2 separate regions of the Homo sapiens genome follow, and region 2 is linked to region 1. Evidence: fine-mapped expression QTL. A gene starts in region 1. The other region holds a variant in brackets. All regions are shown on one strand. Distances are from middle to middle. Region 1 holds the start of DCP2 (decapping mRNA 2). Region 2 overlaps MCC (MCC regulator of Wnt signaling pathway).

Evidence for each region.
Region 2: its variant is fine-mapped to the expression of DCP2 in whole blood (INTERVAL, PIP above 0.99).

What each region holds. Positions count from the first base shown.
Region 1 is chr5:112,963,407-112,980,034 of GRCh38, forward strand. DCP2 (decapping mRNA 2) reads left to right here and starts at 13,392. Exons shown (of 11, transcript NM_152624.6): 1 at 13,392-13,580. The coding sequence starts at 13,528. It overlaps LOC105379126 (a long non-coding RNA gene), which reads right to left and starts at 11,379. Exons shown (of 2, transcript XR_948679.3): 1 at 11,292-11,379; 2 at 8,405-8,547. RefSeq lists enhancers at 12,883-12,932, 12,963-13,042, 13,058-13,817, 13,353-13,402, 13,473-13,562 and 3 more.
Region 2 is chr5:113,029,438-113,037,437 of GRCh38, forward strand. The region is part of intron 17 of MCC (MCC regulator of Wnt signaling pathway); the gene reads right to left. Among named protein-coding and RNA genes, the nearest start is that of DCP2, 57 kb to the left of the region's middle. RefSeq lists an enhancer at 4,836-5,394. The variant C/G (reference allele first, on the strand shown) is at 3,671.

The DNA.
Region 1 (16,628 bases):
GTTCCTTATAGCCTTCACTAGGGAGCACAGCCTTGCCAACACCTTGATTTTAGCCCAGTGAGATCTGTGTTGGGCTGCTAACCTACAGAACTGTGAGAACTTGTTTGTTTGTTTTTTGAGAGAGTCTTACTGTGTTGCCCAGGGTGGAGTGCAGTGGTGCAATCTTGGCTCACTGCAACCTCTGCCTCCCAGGTTCAAGCGATTCTCCTACCTCAGCCTCCCAAGTAGCAGGGATTACAGGTATGTGCCACCATGCCCGGCTAATTTTTTATATTTTTTGTAGAGATGGGATTTTGCCATGTTGGCCAGGCTGGTCTCGAACTCCTGACCTCAAGTAATCTGTCCGCCTTGGCCTCCCAAAGTGCTGGGATTACAGGCATGAGCCACTGCACTTGGCCATACGTTTGTATTGTTTAAGCCATCAAGTCTGTGGTAATTTGTTATAACAGCAATAGAAAACTAATTACAGAGTGAGATTGTATCACTGTTTGGCAGTGCTGTGATGACTAAAAGAAGTAACTCTAAGGGGGAGGTTTCGTTGTGTGAGAAAGGGTTTCTTCAGAGTTCTGAGTCATTTAACCAGAAAACACTGCCATTTCCCAGTTCCATTACAGGACTCCTAAGAAGTGGAGTCCTATGTATGTCAAAAGCTGCAGTTTTAAAGTCATGTTCTTGTACTAAAAATATTACTCAGCAGTATGATGCAAAATTTAAAAATGGAAAAAAGGAATGAACACCCTCTGCTGGTAGCAGATAAAACATACTTGGCTTCCTTGTGTATTCTGGAAATAGTTAGGTCTACCCAGGTGGGGCCTCTGGAGAGTGCCACACAACTGGGGACTTAGGAGGTACATGAAGACCAGCCAGCACAGAGTTATGGGGCCAAACTTAGCTGATGAGTTTACCAGTGAGTGATTGGAGAGGTGCTTCTTTGTATTTCTTTGGGTTGGTTTGTTCATCATTGTTTTTAACAAAACAACTTCTTTTAAAGAATTCATTGTAAGAGGCGCTATAAGACAAACTCCTTTTTCCGGTTAAGATGCTTACAAGGTCATTAAGAAAATAAACACCAGCCTTGGCCAGCCATGGTGGCTCACGCCTGTAATCCCAGCACTTTGAGAAGCCGAGGTGGGTGGATCACCCTAGGTCAGGAGTTTGAGACCAGCCTAACCAATATGGTGAAACCCTATCTCTACTAAGAATACAAAAATCAGCCTGGCATGGTGGCATGTGCCTGTAGTCCCAGCTACTCAGGAGGCTGAGACAGGAGAATCACTTGAACCCAGGAGGAGGAGGTTGCAGTGAGCTGAGATCGCGCCACCACACTCCAGCCTGGGTGACAGTGAGACACCATCTCAAAAAAAAAAAAAAAGAAAAGAAAGAAAAGCCAGCCTTTAGGATACTTACTCAACAACAAAATTTATTCAAAGATTCAACATAATAATTAGTGTGTATTAATAACTTAGTTTTGAAATTTTAGTCAATGACAGGAAATTAATAAGCAGATTCTTAAGAACCGTTATAGAAATTGTATTTCTGATTTTTAAAGTTAAGATTTTTTTTTAAAGTTCAAAAATAATTTTACTTTTTCTAATTTGTTCCTCATGCAAAAGAAGGTTGTTAATCACTAGCTTAGAGCTTTTTTTGTTTTTTTTTTCGAGATGGAGTCTTGCTCTGTCACCCAGGCTAGAGTGCAGTGGCGCGATCTCGGCTCACTGCAACCTCTGACTCCCAAGTTCAGGCTATTCTCATGCCTCAGCCTCCTGAGTAGCTGAGATTACAGGCATGTGCCACCACGCCTGGCTAATTTTTATGTTTTTAGTAGAGTTGGGGTTTCACCATGTTGGTAAGGCTGGTCTCGAACTCCTGACCTCGTGATCTGCCTGCCTCGGCCTCCCAAAGTGCTGGGATTACAGGTGTGAGCCACCGTGCTCGGCCGCTTAGAACTTTTTTACTTGGGTCTGACAATTCCATTTGTCCCCTTTCAACTGCCTCCTCCCATTCTGGGCAAATACATCAGTGCATGGGAGTTAGACATGACAGGGAACAGGAAGGGGAGGGCAAAAGAAAAGAGGCATAGTCTAGAGTTCAAGAGTTGTTTTATGTGCAGTGTACATTTATACTTACTATGTTTATATTTCACATACATTTATATATTATTATACACTTATTATATTTATATTTGTTTTATATATCACATATATTTGTTTAACATATACACATAGAGCAAGCGAGCTCTGTATTAGGACTCTGGTGAAAGTAACAAAAACCTAACTGAGCTAGAATGAGTTCATCTTTTCCGACATGTTAGGAAGATGAGATTCACTCTTAGAAAGCAGAGATTCACTCTGATTTCATTTTATTTTGAGCCACGGTCTTGCTTTGTTGTCCAGGCTGGAGTACAGTGTCACTATCATGGCCCCCTGCATCCTTGACCTCCCAGGCTCAAGCAGTCCTCTCTCCTCAGCCTTTCAAGTAGCTGGGACCACAGGCGCCACCATGCCTAGCTAATCTTTTTGGGTTTTTGTAGAGATGGGGTCTCCCTATGTTGCTCGGGCTGGTCTCGAACTCATAGTTACAAGCAATCCCCCTGCCTCGTCCTCTCAAAGAGCAGGGATAACAGGCGTGAGCCACCACGTCTGGCCTCTTTCTGTTTTTTAAAAAGTAATTCTCTCTTACTCATTTTGAGATTTTGCGTCTCATCACCTCCTTCCTAGTCACCTCAGCACATATTTGGTGATAACTCATTCATTTTCCTATTCTTTGGTTAACAAATGTTTATAGAGGTCATAGATATGACTGAGGTATTCTAAGCACTGGGGAATTAGTGGATAAATTAGAAAAGATCCCTGCTTTTTTGTAACATATAGTATAATGGGGGAGAGGCATTGAAAATGTTTCAAATTGAAGAAGCATAGTATGAAGGAAACAAAGACATGTGATAGGTAATGACAGTAGAAACTATTTATTTATTTATTTATTTATTTATTTAGAGACTGAGTCTCATTCTGTCACCCAGGCTGGAGTGCGGTGATGCAATCTCAGCTCAGTGCAACCTGTGCCTCCTGGGTTCCAGTGAGTCTCCTGCCTCAGCCTCCCGAGTATCTGGGACTATACGCACGTGCCACCACACCCGGCTAATTTTTTTTTTTTTTTTAGTAGAGACAGGGTTTCACCATGTTGGCCATGAACTCCTGACCTCAGGTGATCCACCTGCCTCGGCCTCCTGAAGTGCTGGCATTACATGTGTGAGCCACCACACCCAGTCGAGACTATTTAAATAGAGCGGCCAGGGAAGGTTTTTTGAAGAGGTGACATTTAACCCATACATAAAGGTGAAAAGGAGGGGATCATGGAAGGTAGGTGCAACATTCCAGGCAGTGGGAATGGTATTTGGAAAGAGCTTGGGGTATTTGACGAATTTCAAAAAGACTAATATGGCTAGAGTGTAGCAGAGACAGATGAAGATGGGACATAGGATGAAGCTAAAGTGACATTTAGTGCTCCGTCGTGTAAGTTCTCTTAGATAGCAAACTAGAGTTTACTCTGAGGGTCATGAAAAATTTTAAGCAGGAGAGTGATGTGATTAAATTTATGTCATTTTTTCCTTTATTTTTGTAGAGACAGGGTCTTATAAAGATAAGGCCTTGCTATGTTGCTCAGGCCAGACTGGGCTCAAGGGACTTCCTGAGTAGCTGGGACTAGAGGCACATGCCACCATGCCCATCATTCAAATTTGGGTTTTAAGATGATCACAGGCCAGCTGCAGTGGTTCGTGTCTGTAATCCCAGCACTTTGGGAGGCCAAGGCAGGAGGATTACTTGAGCCCAGGAGTTTGAGACAAGTCTAGGCAACATAGTAAGACTGTCTCTACAAAAAATATGAAAATTAGGATGGGCATGGTGGCTCATGCCTGTAATCCCAGCACTTTGGGAGGCCAAGGTGGGCAGATCACCAGAGGTCAGGAGTTCAAGATGAGCCTGGCTAACATGGTGAAAACCCATTTCTGCTAAAAATATAAATTATTAATTTTAATACAGATTAAAATTAGCTGGGCGTGGTGGTGCATGCCTGTAATCCCAGCTACTTGGGAGGCTGAAACAGGAGAACTGCTTGAACTCGGGAGGCGGAGGTTACAGTGAGCGGAGATCAGGCCATTGCACTCCAGCTTGGGCGACAAGAAAGAAGCTCCATCTCAAAACAAAACAAATAAACAAACAAAAACAAAAATTAGCAAGGCATGGTGGCACATGCCTGTAGTCCAAACTACTTGAGAGGCTGAGGCAGGAGGATCACTTGAGCTCAAGGGTGTGAGGCTGCTGTGAGCTATGATCACACCACTGCACTTTAGCCTGGGCAAGAGAGTGGGAACTTGACTCTAAAAAAATTACAATAAATAAATAAATAAAAGATTATTACTCTTTTTTGCTCAGGCTGGAGTTCAGTGATGCAATCATAGCTCACTGTAACCTTGAACTCCTGGGCTCAAGGGATCCTCCTGCCTCAGCCTCTGGAGTAGCTGGGAGTATGAGTGTACACCACTATGCATGGGTTTTTTTTTGTTTTTTCCTTTTTACTTTTGTAGATACGGGATCTTACTATATTGCTCAGGCTGGTTTCTAACTCCTTCCTGTCCAGGAGCGATCCCCCAACCTCAGCTTCCTTAAATGTAGGGATTATAGGAGTAAGCCACCATCCCCAGCCTGATCACTCTTGCTGCTCTGTGGAGGACAGATTAAAATGGAGCATGGGTGCAAGACAGGAGACCAGTTAGAAGCCAGTTGAAGTAGTCTAAGTGAGAAGTGCTGTGGCCTGGACTAAGGTGGGGAAAGTTAAGGTGGAGGAAATGGGGATGGATCTTAGATATGTTTTGGTGGTAGACTAGTTAGGAATTGCTGATGTATTGGGCATAGTGATATATGAGAAAAACAGGAATCAAGATTCACTCTTAGGTTTTCTGATTTGAGCTACTGGATGGATAGAGGAACATATAAATTAAAATGATTTAGGCTCAAATAACAGCTTCGGCTTAAGAAATATTTGGTTCATGTAAGTTCAGAGGTAGGATAGGCTTTGGGTTTCACTTAGTTCTTGAGGATTCCAGCTCCTGGTTAAAAACCTACGTGTGGTTTTTCAGGTCTGTCTGATTGCAGGTGATTACAAAGCCTCTACCTGGCAGCCCTCATGGAGGAAAGCTGCTCTCCCTTCCACAGACTTGGTGCACAGCTAGTGTGCTGCAGGCTCTGATACAGTCACGGGTCACATAACAGCATTTCAACCAACAACATATTCGAAGGTGTTGGTTCCATAAGATTATTATACCATATTTTGACTGTGCCTTTTTTGTGTTTAGATATTTTTAGATCTATAAAGCCTTACCATTGTATTACAATTGCCTATAGTATTCAGTATAGTAACATACTGTACAAGTTTGTAGCCTGGGAGCAATAGGCTGTACTATATAGCCTAGGTAGGTTATGCCATCTATGTTTGTACCAGTATACTCTATAATGTTCACACAATGACAAAATCGCCCAACAATGCATTTCTCAGAATGTATCCTGTTCTGAAGCAACTCATGACTGTAAATATTTGCATTCCTATCCCTGGTGCCTCCTTCATTCCTAGGTTTCTTTATCTGAGGCCTTGTGCAGAGGATTTTTTTTTTTTTCTTTTGAGAGAGGGTCTGGCTCTGTCACCCAGGCTGTAGTACAGTGGTACAATCTCAGCTCACTGCAGCCTTGGCTTCCCGGGCTCAAGCACTCCTTCCACCTCAGCCTCCTGAATAGCTGGGACTACAGGTGGATGCCACCATGCCAGGCTAATTTTTCTGTAGTTTTTGTAGAGACAAGGTTTTGCCATGTTGCCTAGGCTGGTCTCGAACTCAGTAGCTCAAGCAAACTGCCAGCCTTGGCCTCCCAAAGTGTTGGGATTACAGGCGTGAGCCACTGTGCCTGGCTGGGGAGAGGGTTCTTTAGGCTTCTCTGCTGAGGCCTCCTTATGGGGAGGGGAGGGGAAACCTTGACATTCTTTTCCAGGTTGCCTAGGTACTCAGTACTTTTCCACTCTTAGCCTTTCCCCCTTGCCTTCCCCTACTCCACCTCAGAGTCCATAAAACTGCTGGAGCTTTTTCTTCAGGGATCCCTTAACAGTGATATGACTCCATGACCCCCTACATCCGTGCTGACTCATGTGACCTGCAGCTAGTGCGCAGTTCCATGGGGGAAATGGAACAGAAACTGTGGGTACTTTCTCTGTTTCTTGTTTGTATCATTGCAGTAAACGCTACTCTCATTTTTGGCTCGTTGGTCTAATTGGCTACTCTGATACCTGTTAGCTCAGCTAGTGCTCTCTGTCTCTCTCCCAGCCCGTTTCCTGACAATTCTGGGTCCATTTTCCTACAGATCTTTCAGCTTTGCCCCATTCCACACATTAGCTTCAACCTCAAAGTGATAGTGAGTAGTAGTATATCAGTCACTGAGTACTGGCTGTAGAAGTTCCAGACATCATATCCTGACCTGATGACATCCAATGAAAGAAGAGAGACTTTTTCATCACGAAGTTTTAAGCAAGAGTTCTATGGTATACACTGACTGGACTATGTAGGTATGTACCTGTCCAGAGAATGGGTACATTTCCAGGGAATGGAGTGTGGTGTTTGATTTACCAACCAGATTTTGGCCTTTGAGCCAAAAGTGTTTCTGGCTTCCCCAGAGTCACATGTGCTGTGTGAGGGAAGCTAAGGGATACATGTCTTAATCAGGGTTCTGTTAGGAAAGAGTAAGGGGTGAATTCAGGGCCTGCTATTAATACATAATTTGCAGAGCCTGTTCCTCTCATGAAAATATAGAGCTCCTTATTCAAAAGGCAGGAAAAAAGTGTCACTAAAGGTGCTAGAAAGCCAGGCGAGGTGGCATACACTTATAGTATCAGTTACGCAGGAGGATTGCTGAGCCCAGGAGTTTAAGTCTGGCCTGGGCAACAAACTGAGACCTCATCTCTTAACTACAACAACAACAAAAATACTAGAATATAAAGGCTTTTTCTTTCTTTCACAGTTTCTCTCTTCACTTATGGTGTTTTTGATATTTAATGTCATTCTAAATAAAGATTAAAATTAAAATTAAGTAAAATTAAATTCATTCTAAGTAAAATTAAAATCATTACAAAGACTTTTTACCATCTTTATATTATGCAATGCTGGCTTTTTTTTTTTTTTTTCTTTTTTATTTTTTTTTTTGAGATGGAGTCTCGCTATGTCGCCAGGCTGAAGTGCAGAGATGCTATCTCAGCTCACTGCAATCTTTCCTCCCGGATTCAAGTGATTCTCCTGCCTCAGCCTCCCGAGTAGCTGAGATTACAGGCATGCACCACCACACCCAGCTAATTTTTGTATTTTTAGTAGAGACAGGGTTTCACCATATTGGCCAGGATGGTCTCGATTTCCTGACCTCATGATCTGCCCACCTCAGCCTCCCAAAGTGCTGGGATTACAGGTGTGAGCCACTGCGCCCAACCACAATTTTGGTTTTAAATGCAAATATAAGAACATTTAACTTGTACGTGGAATCACTGAAATTACATAATTCTTATTTCATACTTTGTACATGTATGATATATTTCATTGTTACCAGAACAGTCAAAATGCTGTACGAAAGTCAACTGTTTTTACGTCACTTCTTGATATGCACATACATATTCTACCACACTCTCTACCTTCTTATTGATGAGGAAAAAACTAAAAAGAAAAGGAAAAGATGGGTTGCTCGATCTTCCCCTTTCCTTCTATGTCATCATTTTCAGCATAAGGGGTTGGCTAAATCAGGAAAGCAATAGGAAAGGATATGATAGAGTTTCTTGGTTCTTTGTGTTTTTAGACTGCCATTGTCTTCTTGCATTAGAACAAGTTCTGATACACAGGAAGCTTGACCTCCTAGGGCTGACAGCGACCCCACCTACTCAGTTCCTATGTGCCTATGTTGTTCTTACTCTGAATCTTGCTGAACTTTCATGCATTGTGAGTTCAGTGAAATTCTATTTAAATAGGACAATGCAAATGCTATATGCAAATGGCATGGCAAAGAGTGAGTGGACATGCATATTGCACGTCTCGGCTCTGCTCATGCTCTATTGTCCCTCCAATTTTACTTACAAAACACAAGTTCAAAAACAAAATTGAGAATTTCAAGATGGTAACAGCAGAGCATTAAACCAAACATGGGGCCTTTCTGAGTGTAGGGTTCTGTGCAACTATACGGTTTATACATACACACACATGCAGCTGGCCCTGGGTAAATGAGTGCTGGGCATGCAAACAAGAATGACCACTACAACCTGCATTTACTGATTATGGAAAAGGGTTTGTGTGTAAAGAGAAAAAAAACCCAACAACAAAAAAACAAGATACTTTATGCAGCAAAAGTTTATTTTTTGCTCATGCAGAATCTGGAGCAAATGCTCCAGGGTAGCTCTCCTCCAAGCAGTACACTCAAGGGTCTGTGCTTTTTCCAGTGTGACTCCACTATCTAAAGAGTTCTTTGCTTTCAGCTGGGAAGAGAAAAGGGAGAAATAAAAATTATGTGAAAATTACATAGAGCATTTCAGGAGCTGTGCTTTGAAGTTGGGTATATCACGTTTATCTTCATTCCACTGGCCAGAACTCAATTGCGTTTTTCCATCTAAATGCAAGGAGGCCTGTGAATCCAGGAAGAGGAAACGGGATTGGTGAGTGACATGGTTTGGCTGTGTCCCCACCCAAATCTCATCTTGAATTGTAGCTTCCATAATTCCCATGTGTCATGGGAGGCACCTGGTGGGAGGTAATTGAATAATGGGGGTGGGTCTTTCCTGTGCTGTTCTCATGACAGTGAATAAATCTCACAAGACCTGATGGTTTTATATAGGGGAGTTCCCCTGCACATGCTCGTTTTGCCTGCTGCCATGTAAAATATGACTTTGCTCTTCCTTTGCCTTCTGCCATGATGTGAGGCCTCCCCAGCCATGTGGAACTGAGTCAATTAAACCTCTTTCCTTTATAAATTACCCAGTCTCGGGTATGTCTTTATTAGGAGTGTGAGAACGGACTAATACAGTCAGCATCTAGTAAGACTGCCATAGAGATCAAGGGAGATTTTTGTTTCTTGGTAGATGTTACTAAAACATATTATATGCTGTGGGAGATATTATACTAGAAAGAGTGTGGGACTAACAGAAGGGGCAATTATGTATTACTCTATAAACATTGAGTTGAACCATAAGAACTTTGTAGGGATGTGAAGAAGCTTTGACAGACTTAATTTAACCTCACTCTATTTAATTATTTATTTATTTTTATTTTTATTTTTTTTGAGTCAGAGTCTCGCTCTGTCGCCCAGGCTGGAATGCAGTGGTGTGATCTCTGCTCACTGCAAGCTCCGCCTCCTGGGTTCACGCCATTCTCCTGCCTCAGCCTCCCAAGTACCTGGGACCAAAGGCGTCTGCCACCACACCTGGCTAAGTTTTTGTATTTTCAGTAGAGACAGGGTTTCACCGTGTTAGCCAAGATGGTCTCGATCTCCCGACCTCATGATCCACCCGCCCTGGCCTCCCAAAGTGCTGGGATTACAGGCGACCTCACTCAATTTAAAAGGCCAATAAGCAAGTTAAATATTTTTTAGGATTCAGTGACAGCTTATTTTGTTGTGAGATTATTATATTTGAATATTATAGTATAATATGCTGTACAGGCATAAACAATAGTTTTTGTGTCATTCTCCCTAAGGCAGAATTCCTGCTATGAGTTTAGAACTGAATGCTAGTCCTGACTCAATTATATACTGTTGCTTAATCATTAATCTTTGAGTCATTTAATCTTTATAAGCCTCATTAATCTTTGTCTATTTCATGTAGTAATAAAGACTAAATGAGGCCAGGCACGGTGGCTCATGCCTGTAATCCCAGTGCTTTGGGAAGTTGAGGAAGGAGGATTGCTTGAGGCCAGGAGTTTAGGACTAACATAGGCAACCTAGTGAGACCCCTGTCTCTACAAAGTTTTTAAAAAAATAATTAGCCAGGCCTGGTGGTGCGCACTTGTATTCCTAGCTACTTGGGAGGGTGAGGTGGGAGACTGAGCCCAGGAGTGAGCTATGCCACTGCACTCCAGCCTGGGCAACAGAGTGGGATCTTGTTCCAAAAAAAAGACTAAATGAAATAGCATATTTTAAAACTATAAAGGTTTTAATCAACCTAATTATTTAAAAATCAAATCAGTATTATAATTTAAGAACCCTAGCATCTCCTGTTCTCCTGTTACCTCAACTCTAAGCTCCCCTTTGTCATTCTCAGCTGGGTCCTGTGAACAATTAGATGGAATTGAGGCCTTGGTGTCCCTATTCACTTTAACAGGGATGGCACTAGGTTCAAGAGGCTGAAGAAGAGACCCAGAGCCAGCAAATGAGGCATATGGTTTATTGAGAGGAACTTGCATACAGAGCGGTCCACTAGAGGTGAGCTGGACATGAGAACAACATCACCTGCAGAAAGCATGCAGTTTATATAGCATTTTCATTTTGCACCCTCTCCCTAACAGCTTCCACCTGACAACTTTCATTTAGCCCAAAACAAAGGGCCTAGCCCTCCTGTGCAGCCTGCATTCCACAGGGCTCAGATGTTCCTCATAGATAAGGAATGAATCTTGGTTGTAACTGCAAACTCATTCAGGTTGTCTGCCACACAGGGTCATTCCCCTGGGTCTGCTTACGTTACTGCTGTCAGGTGCCTCTACCATACAGTTGGCTTCTTTGGAAGTCATGGCTTGGGGGGCTGCTATAAGGGTTGCACTAGTCCAGCTCCTGGAAATCTGTGTGTGAGGAGGCAGTGGAGGGATGGGGCATGGGCAAGATAATATCTTGGACCACAGACATCTCAGAAACTCTTAATAAGGCAGATTGGTTTAACACCATGTGAGAGTTTGGGGACTTCCTGGCCTCTAAGAGCCCAAAAGGGGTTGTATAGCTGCCCCTAAACTGGGAGACTAGAAAGCTAGTAAGAAGAATTCCTCCAGGTGCTTCAGCAAGTGCTTGGTAACCTGCTTGTTTCTATTAATATACCATTGGCCCATGTGGGTGAGCACCACTTTGCCTTGAACTGTTGTTCCACTGCCATCATTTAGAATACTCTAAAAACTAGACTTGAGCTCTAAGTGAGACAACTAAGAAAACCACTATGGTGCCTCCCAGTCAGAGAAAAGACATTCAGTCAGAACAGGTAGAATGCACACCCAGCAAAATAGAACTGAAGGGGCTCACTCTTACCTTTACCAATCCATCCACTACACTGGCTGGAGGTCCAACTGCTAGTATCTGCATTTCTTTGCCGTAGGACTTTTTCTGGCCACCAGAGCCCATCTTGCTGCCCATGTAGCAGGCTAGAGTGCAGACCCCAGGAGCTGCCTTCAACCAATGAAGGAAGTTGGTATATAAATCCCCATCTCCCTCACCCCTTGAGTGGGATAACTCTGAGGTATATGTTTTATACTGGCCACCAGAGTTCTCCAGTGACAGTAAGCTCCAGTTAACCACAGTGCTAATTTCCTTGATAATAAACCTTTTGGCTTTCCTCCCCTCCTTGACTCACTTTCCTGCTCTCCTACCAATGTTTCCCAAGATCACCTCCCTCACAGGCTATCTGCACTCAAAATCTTGTCTCAGTGCCTGCTTCTTAGGAAATCTAAAATAAGACTTGGACTGTGCTGGGAGTACTGAATAAAGCAAATGGAATACTGCAGCCTGTGCTTCTGTACTGGACTCCCAGAATACATGAAGCTGTGCCTGGAAGCATTTTCTCTTTAGGGAATTTCATCAGCAGAAAGAATTACGTACAGATACTGATACCATGTGTTTCCAACCAACAGCTCAGCCAGATCATCCTACAGTGAAGCTCTCAGGAAACAAGTACCATCTACAAGGTGAGAGCTTCCAATTAGCTTTCAAGGCACTTGACTCCAGGTTAAGGCCTTACTCTTAAGTGTGAGTGAATAGTCAAGGACTACAGAGGCTTCTAATAGGATAGATGAGATCAAGATAATAGCAAAAAGCAGCTGAGAGGAATAAGACTACTCAGGGAGAAGAAAACGTCAAAATCTATTATTAATATCCTCAGAAGGATAAAATAAAATATACAAAGCAAGAATGTGACACCACAAGAAAGGGGCATTTGAAGAACAAAACAGAACTCTAAATAAGTAAAAACTCTGTAGTTGTCAGGAAGATAAATTTGAGGAATTCTCCAAGAAAGAGGGGAAAAAAAAGATGGAAAACGGGAGCAAAATAGATGGTGACGGGCCTCTTATGCCAAAGGAACTTGGGCTTGATCATACAGCAGAAACTGAAAAGATAACTTGTTCCTATCTGAGTAAAACAAAACAAAATGTAGGCAGTTGCACAGGCCAAGAATGGAGGCAGAGTCAGTGGTTAGGCAGCTCTCACTGTAGTATGGAGAAATGATGCAAAACTGAAGTACACAGTGGCATGTGACAAATTTAGACAAAAGATGGGAGATTAAATGGTAGAACAGACTAAACTTGTGACGGAGCAGGTGTGTGTGGGCCTGTGGGTCTGATGTAAGAGGAAAAAGAACAGATGGATCTAGTTTCTCCAAAGATCCCAAATGGATTGGTCTCCATTAAGCAAGACGAGGAATGAATAAGGACGAGCAGGTGGGGATTGCTTTGTGCAGAGGGTGGAATACAGATCAGAGTTCAGCTTAAATCAGTATTTTCTAAGATTTTGCTAGGTGCCAGATACTGAGATAAAGTCCTTGTCTTCATGTTTGGAACCAGGTGCCTAAGGAAGCACAGAGGAGAGCCACCTCCAAAATGGATACCCTCTCCAAGGGTTTGTAGTGAAAGAGGCACAGCTCTTGGCCTGGAGTTGGTGGGGGCTGCGATAAGTGCAAGATACTTGGTGACAGGAATCGCGAGCATACTCTTGTGTTGTACGGATTCTCAGGGTCGGCCCTGCAGAGGAAAGAGCTCAGTCACCGCGAGGTCCTGCACAACATGCCAAAGTCCCGGATATGTGTCCGGGGTCTACACCTAAGCCCCGACCCCTCTGAACTTCCCAGAAGCGCGCAGGAGGCATGGTGCGCATGCGTGTAGCCACCTCAAAGGCGGCGGGAAGTTGGTTTTCTGAGTAGCAACTGAGCAGCTTGAAGACGGATTGGAAGTAGCAGACCAATAAACAAACGTCTCATTGGCTTAGAGTGCTTAGAGTCCCAATTCTTCAGCTTCCCATTGGGCCTTTCAAGCGAGCAGGGGCGTGACTCCGGGGGCTCCGCCCCGAGCCTTGGCCCAGTCTTGGGGTCCAAGGCTGAGGGAGCGGGACGGAAGTGAGCGGGTCCCGCCCCTTCCCCTTCTCGTCTCCGTTGGAGTCGTCTCTGCCGCGGCTTCCTCGGCTGCCAGCTCTCCGGCGAGCCGGAGTCCTAGTGCCGTACCGTCAGTCCCCGGCCGCGCGGAGCCGGGATGCACTGTTCCTGCTGTGGGTCCTCATCATGGAGACCAAACGGGTGGAGATTCCCGGCAGCGTCCTGGACGATCTCTGCAGGTACCGCGCTACCCGACCCCCTTTCGCCCCCGTCGGGTTTTCTCAGTTTCGCGGACCCCCAGAGGCCTCTGGGTCTTCTTCCCCGCCCACGTCCATGTCCTCGCTTTCCGCTCCCGCCGCTGCTCGCTTTCCATCGTCGACCCTGCTCTCCGACGACACCGCCCCTCTTTCCGCCGCAGCCTCCCTGTTTCTCAAGGCCCTCCGTCCTTCCCCGCAGAACACCCGGAATTTCCTCATTTTTTAAGTTACTCAACTATTTTGCTTTCCCGCAGGCGTAGCCGCTTCGCCGGAGCCTGGGTCTTAGCGTTTTGCCGCCGCCGCCGCCTCCCTCTCCCATTGTTTTTTCTGCCTCTGTGACTTTTCCACGCCGTGCACCCCCTCCTCCCTGTGTCTCATTCCCCGATTCTGAAGGAAGACCCCCAGGGTAGTAATTTAAGGCTTAGGATCCCAGGTACGCGGACCTGCGCAAGGAGCAAATTTTCGGACTTATTCTGACGCCTGCGTGTTATTTGTCCGTGGCGTTCTCTGTAAATTCCTGTAAGGAATTACTTTTTTTTTCTCATCCCTGGACTTGTCTTTGGGGGAGAGAGGGAAAAAGTGTAGCGCTGCTTTTCTTTTTATCCTTAATAATCCTATTTTAAAGGAAATTCTCAACCGCGGGGTTTTAACTCAGGGTGTATACTTCAGATGAGAAATTTTCTGCATTCTTCCCCCTTGTCAACTCTGATTTCAGATAGCCAAACACGTGTAGGATACTTAAAAATGCTTATTTTCCGAAGGTAAAATTTGGAGTGCAGTGATACCCGGAGTTGTCGCCAAGTGTGTGTGGATTGTGATTACAAGTGATAACACCTTTTCGTTCACAGTTACTGTGTTTATGTTTTAAAAGGCAGGCTTTTAGTAGTTGTATCTCCTTCATGCAGTTTTTTTTAATGGAAAGTAAAGAACTGGTGTTTGTGGAGTTTTTTGGGGTTTTTTTTGTTTGTTTGTTTTTTTGTTTTTATTTTTTGAGACGGAGCCTCTTTCTTTTGCCCAGGCTGGTGTGCAGTGGTGCGGTCTTGGCTCACTGCAACCTCTGCCTTCCGGATTCAAACGAGTCTCTGCCTCAGCCTCCCTAGCAGCTGGGATTACAGGCACCCGCCACCACACCCGGCTAATTTTTGTATTTTTAGTAGAGACGGGATTTCACCATCTTGGCCGTGCTGGTCTCGAACTTCTGACCTCGTGATCCACCCGCCTCGGCCTCCCAAAGTGCTGGGATTACAGGCGTGAGCCATCGCGCCCGGCCTGGAGTTTCTACTGTGCACCAGGCACTACCTTTACATGTATTGTTTTATTTAATCCTCAGTCAGCCGTGTTTGGTAGGTGCAGTTAGTATATTTCCATTTTCATCTGCGCAAACAGATTCAGGAACTTTGTAATTTACATAAGGTCACATTCATCCTAATTCACAAAATCAAGATTTCACACCTATTCCTTTTTCTTTCCAGTGCCTGTGCTTTTTCTCTCATACCAAGGAGAAGTAATAAGCCTAACGTTTTAAACCTCACAAAAGTACATACAGAAAAGTAAATAGCCTAATTTTGCAACTAATACAAATGGCGCTGTACTTCTTTGGTGATGGTAGATTTATAATTTTTGAAGTATGGTAGATTCAAATGAACCACTGAAAAGGCATTTAGTTTCTTGTCCCAAATAAAAAAAAAAAAAGGAAAAAGAAACTGAATTTGATATGTGTATGTGGGTTAATGACTAGACGCACATCAACCAATAGTGGGATTATGAGATTGTGATCTTTATTTTTTGTTTCCAATATTTTTTATGCATTTTATAGTTAGAAAAAAATTGAAGATAAGTATTTAGAAAGGTGATCAGTAATTAGCTGTGTGTTAATAGGGTTAAGAGTTGATTTAGAAAAAGATGTGGTAATCTTAAACATTTTACAGACATCAGAGCTAGTCTTCCTTCTAGTATTGGGGTTAATTTGCATATTATCTAGGATTACATCATTTAAATAAGTGATGTCAGCTGTTAACGATTTTATGTATGGAACCTATTCACAAAATAATTACGTTGTATTTTGTAAACAATATGTTAAGCACCTGTCAAGTGTTAAAGATAGTTGGTTTTCCAGTGAGTGTATTTAAGCTGTTAAACAAATATTTTTGAATGGAGTAACATTTTTTTCCTTTCAAGAAATTTCTTTTTGCAGTTACTGTTTTTGGCTGTATAAATAAGGATATGATATATTTAAAAATTAGGGCTGGCTGTAATAATGAAACCAAATAAACATTTCTCAAAACTTCAGATTTTAAAATAAATGCCATTTTCAAGTTAATATTTATAGCTTTGATTAATTGAAATATTTTTAATGTTACAGATTCAAGCTTTTCATTGTAGACTAAAACTTTTTTTTTACACTTAGAATTTGGTAAACTTCTGTAAAAATAAAGCTTAATTTGAGGTTAATTTTTCTGAACTTCTTTGCTCTCTTTTATGTACGTCTTGATTTATGAATTCAAGCTAGGTGCTTGTTTTTACTCCCTTCATTTTTTGCCCCAATTCTGTTGCTTATTATTAGTGTATATAGGAAGTTTTCTTTTGTGTTACTTTGTTTTTTGATAAATTACATGTTTCTGTTAAATCTTGCCTTTTGATGTGGAGAGCAGCAGACTTAAATTTTCAAAATGTGACTTTGTAACCTTTAGACTGCTCATAACCTAAGGCTGATGCTTTAGTATGTAACATTCTATTTATTGGAATATTGTGCAGCCATTCTAAGTTCCTCAGGCAATTAGCACACAGTAAACTGAGGGAAAATATTTGTGTGTTGAAAAGATGTACACAGTATACTGAGTGAAATACTTATTTAGTCCCTTGGTGCCTTTTGTGAAAACAAATTTTTAAGTGTGTGTGTGGGTGGGGAAGGGGTATATGTATTCGTATGCCGAAAGAATATGCGCCAAACTGATAACACTGGTTACTTTCTGAGTGGAGTAGAATTAGAGGAGAGGAAGGGAAGAGTTTGGTCTTAAAATATTCTAGTGA
Region 2 (8,000 bases), 62 kb after region 1:
CCTAAGTATCTCCTGAACCACTCAGGTTTAGCAACCTACCTTGAACAGGTCCCCACTCATTGAGACCAACATGATCCCACCTTGCCAAAAACCAAAAAATTGGTAGAGGGAGTAGATATGATACTCTCTTCATTGTAAGGGTCCTTATTTCCCATGAAATTACATTTGCACTTTTGACTACGTGCCCTCCACAGGCAAAGCAGCTTCAAGTTCTGTGGATCCTCTACTACTTTGGTAACCCAAGCTAATTAGAGTCAGTTCAGGGAGGTTTCCAGTATCCAGTCAGCTCATTGCCTTCCTCTAATTCCCACAAGACCCAGCAGGGAAACACTAATCAAAGCCTTCTCGACTACTCTGACTCCCTTCCAAGATCCTTCTATCACATGCACAGTGTTACTCCACTTAGTAGCACACTCAGCACTATGTCACCGTATTACGTGCTGGAGCCATGACGCTCCCCCATGGTCATGTTGGGTTCTAGAGTGGCAAGGACTTTACTTGGTTTGATTCCCCAATGCACCCCCAGTGCTGAGCACCGTGCCTGGGTGACAGCTTCTAGTGACTGTTAAAACAGCTTTAGAACAACTTACTGAAGGTAATGTATTTGATTCTTTGGGCATATTAAGAAACCAGGATTTAGGGAAGGAATTCGTTTAAAAAGGACTCACTGTATGTAGAATGTAAATTTGCATGATTAATTTATAAGACAGTTGGGTAGGATCTAGCAAAATAATAAATGAACATGCCCCTTGACTAAGCAACTTCACTTCTAGGAATTGATTTTACAGAGATATCAGGAGCACAGGTTCCTAAAGATACATCACTTATATTTGGATTCACTTAGGCATTGGTTACAATAATGCCTAATAAAGGGAGACAAGCAGGGAACTGGTTAATCACGGCCTACCCATGCTACCGAAATGCTCTGCTTGAAAAATATTTTTAAAATGCAGATGGAGGGCTGGGGGCAGTGACTCATGCCTGTAATCTCAGCACTTTAGGAGGCCAAGGAATGTGGATTACTTGAGCTCAGAAATTGAAGACCAGCCTGGGCAACATGGTGAAACCCCATCTCTACAAAAAAATATAAAACTTAGCCAGATATGGTGGGTCATGCCTGTAGTCCATGCTACTCAGGAGGCTAAGTTGGGAGGATCGCTTGAGTCCAGGAGGTCAAGACCAGTGAGCCATGATCCTGCCACTGCACTCCAGCTTGGGTGACGGAGTGAGACCATCTCAAAACAAACAAAAAAATCAGATGGCCATGCACTGGCATGGGAGGATATCTGATACATTAAGCAAAAAGGGTGAGTTCTAAAGATGCCATTTTTGTAAAAACTGAAAAGCTGAGTGTGAATATCTGACACTGTAATAAGACTAGAAGGTGAAACACAAACTCAACAGTGCTTAACTCCTGAAGGGGGTTGATGGGAGGCTTTCATTTTCTACTTCACTCACTTTTGCATTGCCAGATATTTTTACAATTTTGTATATTTTCTGTAAAGTGCGAGTTAGAGTCATGTAGGAACGGCATGGGAATGTGACGTCGGGGTAGAAGGCTCCTTTCTGCTGCCCAAACTGTTCAGACCCTGGTTCTCCTTTCCTAGCTTTTCATATATCTAATCTTTTACATTTCTGCCTTTAGCTACTATGAGGGTAAGTCAAGCTCTCCAAACTGATCAATGAAGAAAGGAATTACAACGTAAAATCCAGGCCTGCTTTTGGGAGAGAGGATGGAAGGGGCAGGATCTTTAAGGGAAGTCTAGCAACCAGCCCTCAGCCCAGAACTCATTTTTCAGTAAATCCTCCTACCCGCCTCTGCTAAGCTGGAAGGAGCGTGTGTTTTTCCTGGGCCCTAGCAGCCTCCAGGACATCTCGGATCTGGCTGCATTTCCTCCCGGCATTGGAGAGTGGCAGCATTTCCTACCAGCAGTGAGGATGGTGTTGCAGGAGGGGGGCTCCTTTCCTCCCCACCCGCCCCCCAACACCTCCTCGGCCTTCCCAGCAGTCCTCCTCCAGCGGAGGGAAGCCAGGGACTCCTGCTTCCCTCCAGCTAAAAACAGCAGGGAAGGGTTTTTTGCCCTACATTTTATTACCATTTAGAGCCCTTTATCTTTCATTCTAATGTTGATTAATAGTGTAAAAGGAAAAAAAATACTGAAGAGTTAAAAATGTAACCACAAACTCAATAAGAAATTCACAACAAAAAACTCTGGGATGCTACCTAGAGCAGTCAAATCCCCTCCCTCCCCCACTCCTATCCACACTCAGTGAACAGGGAGACTGGAAATCCCAGCCCTTCCACAAGACAAAACGCTTCCTTCCCCAGCACCCAGGCCCTCAGGGGACCAGAGGGAACTTTCTGGATCTGGCAGGCTCCAAAGGAGGATAGAACCCCAGAAGGGCAGGAGAGAGTCTCTCAGACCCAGGCCAACCCCAGCTTAGGGTTGTGGCGCAGGAGTGGGGAGTAGCCATTGCTGGGAGCTTAGAACTGCCTGGCCTTCAGAAGGGAATGGGAGTGAACCGCTGGGAGAAACCCCAGGAAAGAACTATGATGCTCATTTATTTAAAGATGCAAAGACGAGGCCAAACTGTAAACTTAAACCTAAAATTTGGGTTGGTTGATCTGTTTTCATGACAACACAAAAAAATGTAAAATATCTATTTAGTTTAAAAAATACTGATTACAGGGGCCGGGCGCTGTGGCTCACGCCTGTAATCCCAGCACTTTGGTAGGCCGGGGCTGGCGGATCACCTGATGTCGGGAGTTCAAGACCAGCCTGACCAACATGGAGAAACCCTGTCTCTACTAAATACAAAATTAGCTGGGTGTGGTGGCGCTTGCCTGTAATCTCAGCTACTTGGGAGCCTGAGGCAGGAGAATCGCTTGAACCTGGGAGGTGGAGGTTGCAGTAAGCCGAGATCGCGCCACTGCGCTCCAACCTGGGAAACAAGAATGAAACTCTGTATCAAAAAAAAAAAAAAAAAAAAAAGGATACTGATTACATGTTGAGATATTTTGGACATACTGGGTTACATTGTTATTAAAATTAATTTCATGTGTGTCTCTACTTTTTTCATGGGACTACTAGAAAATTTAAAATTACATACATGCCTTGCATTTGTGGATCATATTATATCACCAGTGGACAGTGCTGCTCTAGACCAATTGTTTAATGCTGTCAGAGGCATGTGAACCAGAGCAACTCCATCTTAAATAGGAGTTAGGTAAAAGTGAGGCTAAGACCTACTGGGCTGCATTCCCAGATGGTTAAGGCATTCTAAGTCACAGGATGAGATAGGAGGTCAGCACAAAATACAGGTCATAAAGACCTTGCTGATAAAACATTGCAGTAAAGAAGCCAGCCAAAACAGCAAACCCAAGACGGCCACAAGAATGACCTCTAATCGTCCTCACTGCTACACTCTCACCAGCGCCACAACAGTTTACAAATGCCATGGCAACATCAGGAAGTTACCCTATAACGTCTAAAAAGGGGAGGTATGAATAATCCACCCTTTGTTTAGCATATTATCAAGAAGTAACCATAAAAATGGGCAACCAGCAGCCCCCAAGGCTGCTCTATGGAGTAGCCATTCTTTTCCTTTACTTTCCTAATAAACTTGCTTTCATTTTACTCTGTGGGCTTGCCCTGAATTCTTTCTTGCA[C/G]AAGATCCAAGAACCCTCTCTTGGGGTCTGGATCGGTAATATTTTCCAGTAACAGCATTACCAGATATTTTCCCTGGCTTCTGACTAAGTAGGTTTCGGTTGAGACCCAGGAATTGCAGTTTAACAAGGGCCCCAGCTGACTCTTGTCATCAGGCAAGCTTGAGGGACTGGCGTAAGGCAGAAGAGTTCCTCACCTGGACCTGAGGATGAGCTTCAGTTACTCCTGGAACTGACTTTCTGAATTTATATGCAAAATTGCAAGCACGGGGCTCACTTTATCAAGTCTACAGTTTTCCTCAGATTTTCAAACGATGACATGGAAAATGCAAAGAAACATAGCTTACTAATTCAAGTCACATTGAAACCTCAACCATTCTTGTTCCTTTCTCCTTCTAATTTAAATTTGCTTAGCCTTTCGTTAAGATTTTATATGGTTTGGGTACATAAGTTAGGCCAAAACAAGCTTTCTTGGCTTCACACAAATGAGAAAGCAAAAATTCAACACTACACGTTCCATATGCACCTTCAATAGTAATGTATTCATACAGTGTTTCCTGGAATGGCCAGAAATACATAATCCATTCCTTTTTTATGCCCAGTAGTATTGGCACTCACAAATATACCCCATAGCATCAAGCAAAAACAATGCTGGATTGTAATGACTGTGACAACTGAAGTCCCCCAGTACACACATGGATTTCAGTTCCACGTCTTCCCACTTCAGCTTTTGGGCTTCTTATTCCTGGTGATAAAAGGTCGTATGACTCTAACCGCAGAGCCAGGGTGGGACTTTTAAGAGACAGGGTCTTGATCTGTCATCCAGGCTGGAGTACAGTGGCACAAATCACAGCTCACTGCAGCCTCGACCTCCCAGGCTCAAGCAATCCCCTCACCTCAGCCTCCTGAGTGGCTGGGACTACAGGTGTGTGCCACCATGCTGGGCTAATTTTTAAAACTTTTTTTTTTTTTTTTGTAGAGATAGGGTCTTAACTATGTTGCCCAGGCTGGTTGCAAACTACTGGGCTCTAGTGGTCCTCCCACCTTGCCCTCCCAAAATGCTGAGATTACAGGCCTGAGCAACTCCACCTGGTGGATTCTTTTTAATTGAAACGTAATGTGGTACGTTTCAAGGCAGTGGAATATACACAGGGAATTAAGAGGCAGCCTCGTGGTGTGAATTTAAAGGTAATATGAAAACCAAGGTGGCTTGCCAGTACGCTGGGCAGAGCGAAGCAAGCCTCGGAAGTGGTGCTTGTTGGTGTACCTGGGTAGCCTGGCAGTGCGGCTTCGTGAGCCATCAGTAAGGAGGTTATATTCTCCCTAAAATAAAAAGGCCAGCAGCGGTACTCTGTGATTAGAGTCCAATTGAGGAGCTGCAGGAGTCATCGGGCGAGAGCCCAGTCTCAATGAGGCTGTGAGTGGCTTCACAGCTGGCCAGGAAACCTTTCAGAGGAGCTGTAATCAGACCAAACCACAGGGAGTCACAGCCATGCAGCCACAAGGCCTAGAATTTCTTAGTAATTGCTGATTATATGGAATTAGTCACTAAGAGAATTGTCTGCATATGTGATGTCTCTCATCCTCACCTTCCATTTACTTTTAACCCGTCAGGCTCTGTCTCCACTGACGTGGATCACTGAGCTCACCAGTGAGCTCCAAGTTGTTGCATCCAGCGGTCTGGTCCCTTCTGTCCTTTTCTTACCTGCCCGCATCACCTGCAGGGCTGACAGCCTCTTTGCTCATGGCTTGCACAAGGCCTCCAGAGCCTGATTTCGTTCTGCTTCATTGGCTGCTCCCTTTCTATACTCCATGACAAAATACTGGGTGTTGTTTAGGACTTGGGCCTGGCCTGTATTTTATCTTATCCTTTTCTCTAATGGACTCCCTCCATTCCCTTTTCCTAAAAACTTCCACACTCTTAATCTTCTGGCCTTTCCTTGGATCTCTGGACTTGTCTGTTTGCGGCCTCTTAACTGGCATCTGCGATTTCACATGTCCAGAGGATTACTTCCCAGATGACCTCCAACAGCCACTCTCTCTCCTGTGTTGGCTAATGGCACCACCTTTCAGCCAGTCACTCATTGGGCTCAGATCTCTCTGCCTTCTTGCAAAGGCAGTTTAAGTTACTTGGAGTAAGCCTTAACTCCTCCTCCCCTCATCCTTGACATCTGTTCAACAGCAAACTCTATCTGCCAAGTCTCATCCTGCCATTGTCACCACACCCAGGTCCAAGTGGTCATCACTTCTCACCCGGACAACCACAACAGCCTGCTAACTGGTTTCTCTGTCTCCTCCCCTGCATCCCTCTGCCCTGGTTTTCACACAGCAGCCCAGGTAACATTTCACATGACAGATCTGATCATGTTACTGTCCTTCACTGCCTTTCACCTACACGTGGAATAAACCCTGTGGTCTTGCCTGGACCTCTAAGGCCCTGCTTGACCTGAGTGCTACTTGCTGGGCCTTTGGGCTGCTGGAATCACCCTTGCCCTGATGGAATCCTGTAGGTCCTCAACACAGCCCTGCACAGCCAGGGCCTCTTCCGGATATGATTCTGCCTCTCTCCTCCTCATCTCAGCTTCAGTGTCACCTCCCAGAGAGGCCTAGACTGACCACCCATCTAAACTCATGTCCCAGAGCTAAGACATCACCACGCCTTACCATTTCCTTCATATTATTCATTGCAAACTAAAGTTACTTTATTGGAAAAAAAATCTCCACAGTGACTGTATCACATCATCCCGTTTCCTTCATGGTAATCACCACAATGTTTACTTATTTTTTAGAAAATCCAGGCAGCAGATAACAGCTGTCTCTAAGTCCTTTATAAGGATAACATCATTTCATTCCCACATAACCTTGGAAGTCAGTACTATCATGATTCTCATTTTTAAGGATGAGGAACTTTTTTTTTTTTTTTTTTTTTTTTTTTTTTTTTTTTTTTTTGAGATGGAGTCTCACTCTTTCGCCCGGTCTGAAGTGCAGTGGTGCGATCTTGGGCTCAACACAACCTCCAACCCCTAGGGTTCAAGTGATTCTCCTGCCTCAGCCTCCTGAGTAGCTGGGATTATAGGCACCTGTCACCATGCCCAGCTCATTTTTGTATTTTTAGTAGGGACAGGGTTTCACCATGTTGGCCAGGCCAGTCTTGAATTCCTAATTTCAGGTGATCCACCTGCCTTGGCCTCCGAAAGTACTAGGATTACAGGCGTGAGCCACCGCGCCTGGCCTATAGATGAGGAACTTAAGATTAGTCCCTGCAGAACTGGGACTCCCACCTGGGATTCTGTCTGCAGAGCCTGTGCCCTTACGCATCTCACTGGGTAGTAGCCTGTGATTCACAAAGGGAATACAGTAGAGTGCAAGATAAACAAGACCTCTGCTTAACAGTGCAGCCCTGCAGAACTAAGGCTCAAGTGTCCCCAGATAATGAGGTTCTGCAGGTATGTCGGTGGCTGTGTTTTGCCAGGAGTAGCAGCACAAGGACAACAGCAGTCTAACTTTTTTTTGCCCAGACTTTGCTATGAACATGTTTCTTGTCCAGGAAATCCATCTGGAGTTTTCACAGGCCTTGCCAGTGGCTGCTGGGTGTTCCAGTGCCCTCTACCACTCTGCCTTTATGAGGTCCCAGGCAAGGCCTTCTTCTCTTTGAGCTTTGGGGATGCTGGAGGGATGGCAAAAAAGTAAAATAAATCTCAATTACTCAAGCAACAACCCCTCCATCCCTTGAGTGAGCCTCAGTCTTCACCCTCTGTGCTTCTAGGCACTTGGCTCTGGGGCTCAGCAGTTTATTTGCGTGCTAATGAAGCCACAGGCACACTTTGTATTCCATTAATGTCCTGCAGACCCATGTGCTTTTATGGAATTCTAAGCACAACTTCCATTGCTTGATTGCTTTTATACATCAACCAAATATGAAGAATCAGCAAGTTTAAATAAAACAGCACCTTTTACAATAATGGTCCTCCTCATGAACCAGTGAAGATTCTGCTGCTTATTTGTTCAGTGGGGGCTCCCTTTTAAAAAGCACCCCACCCACTTCCCTTTTCATTTTATCCCACTCTTTGTGTGGCTCAAAAACAGTATTCATCCACAGCTGCTGAAATAGGGGTCAACTAGGGTCATCCTTTTTCCATTCAGGGACAAATGTTGGTTCCTACAAGTCTGGAAGTTTTCTACAGTTGGGTGGATGGTGTATGAACTTGGACATGGATTTGAACTCTGAGGAGTCTCGCTGGCTTTTTCGAAGGCACTGGTAACAGTCAAGGGCTCTGTGGGCCACTGATGGGTAAAGAGTAGTCAGGGCCGGGCACAGTGGCTCATGCCCGTA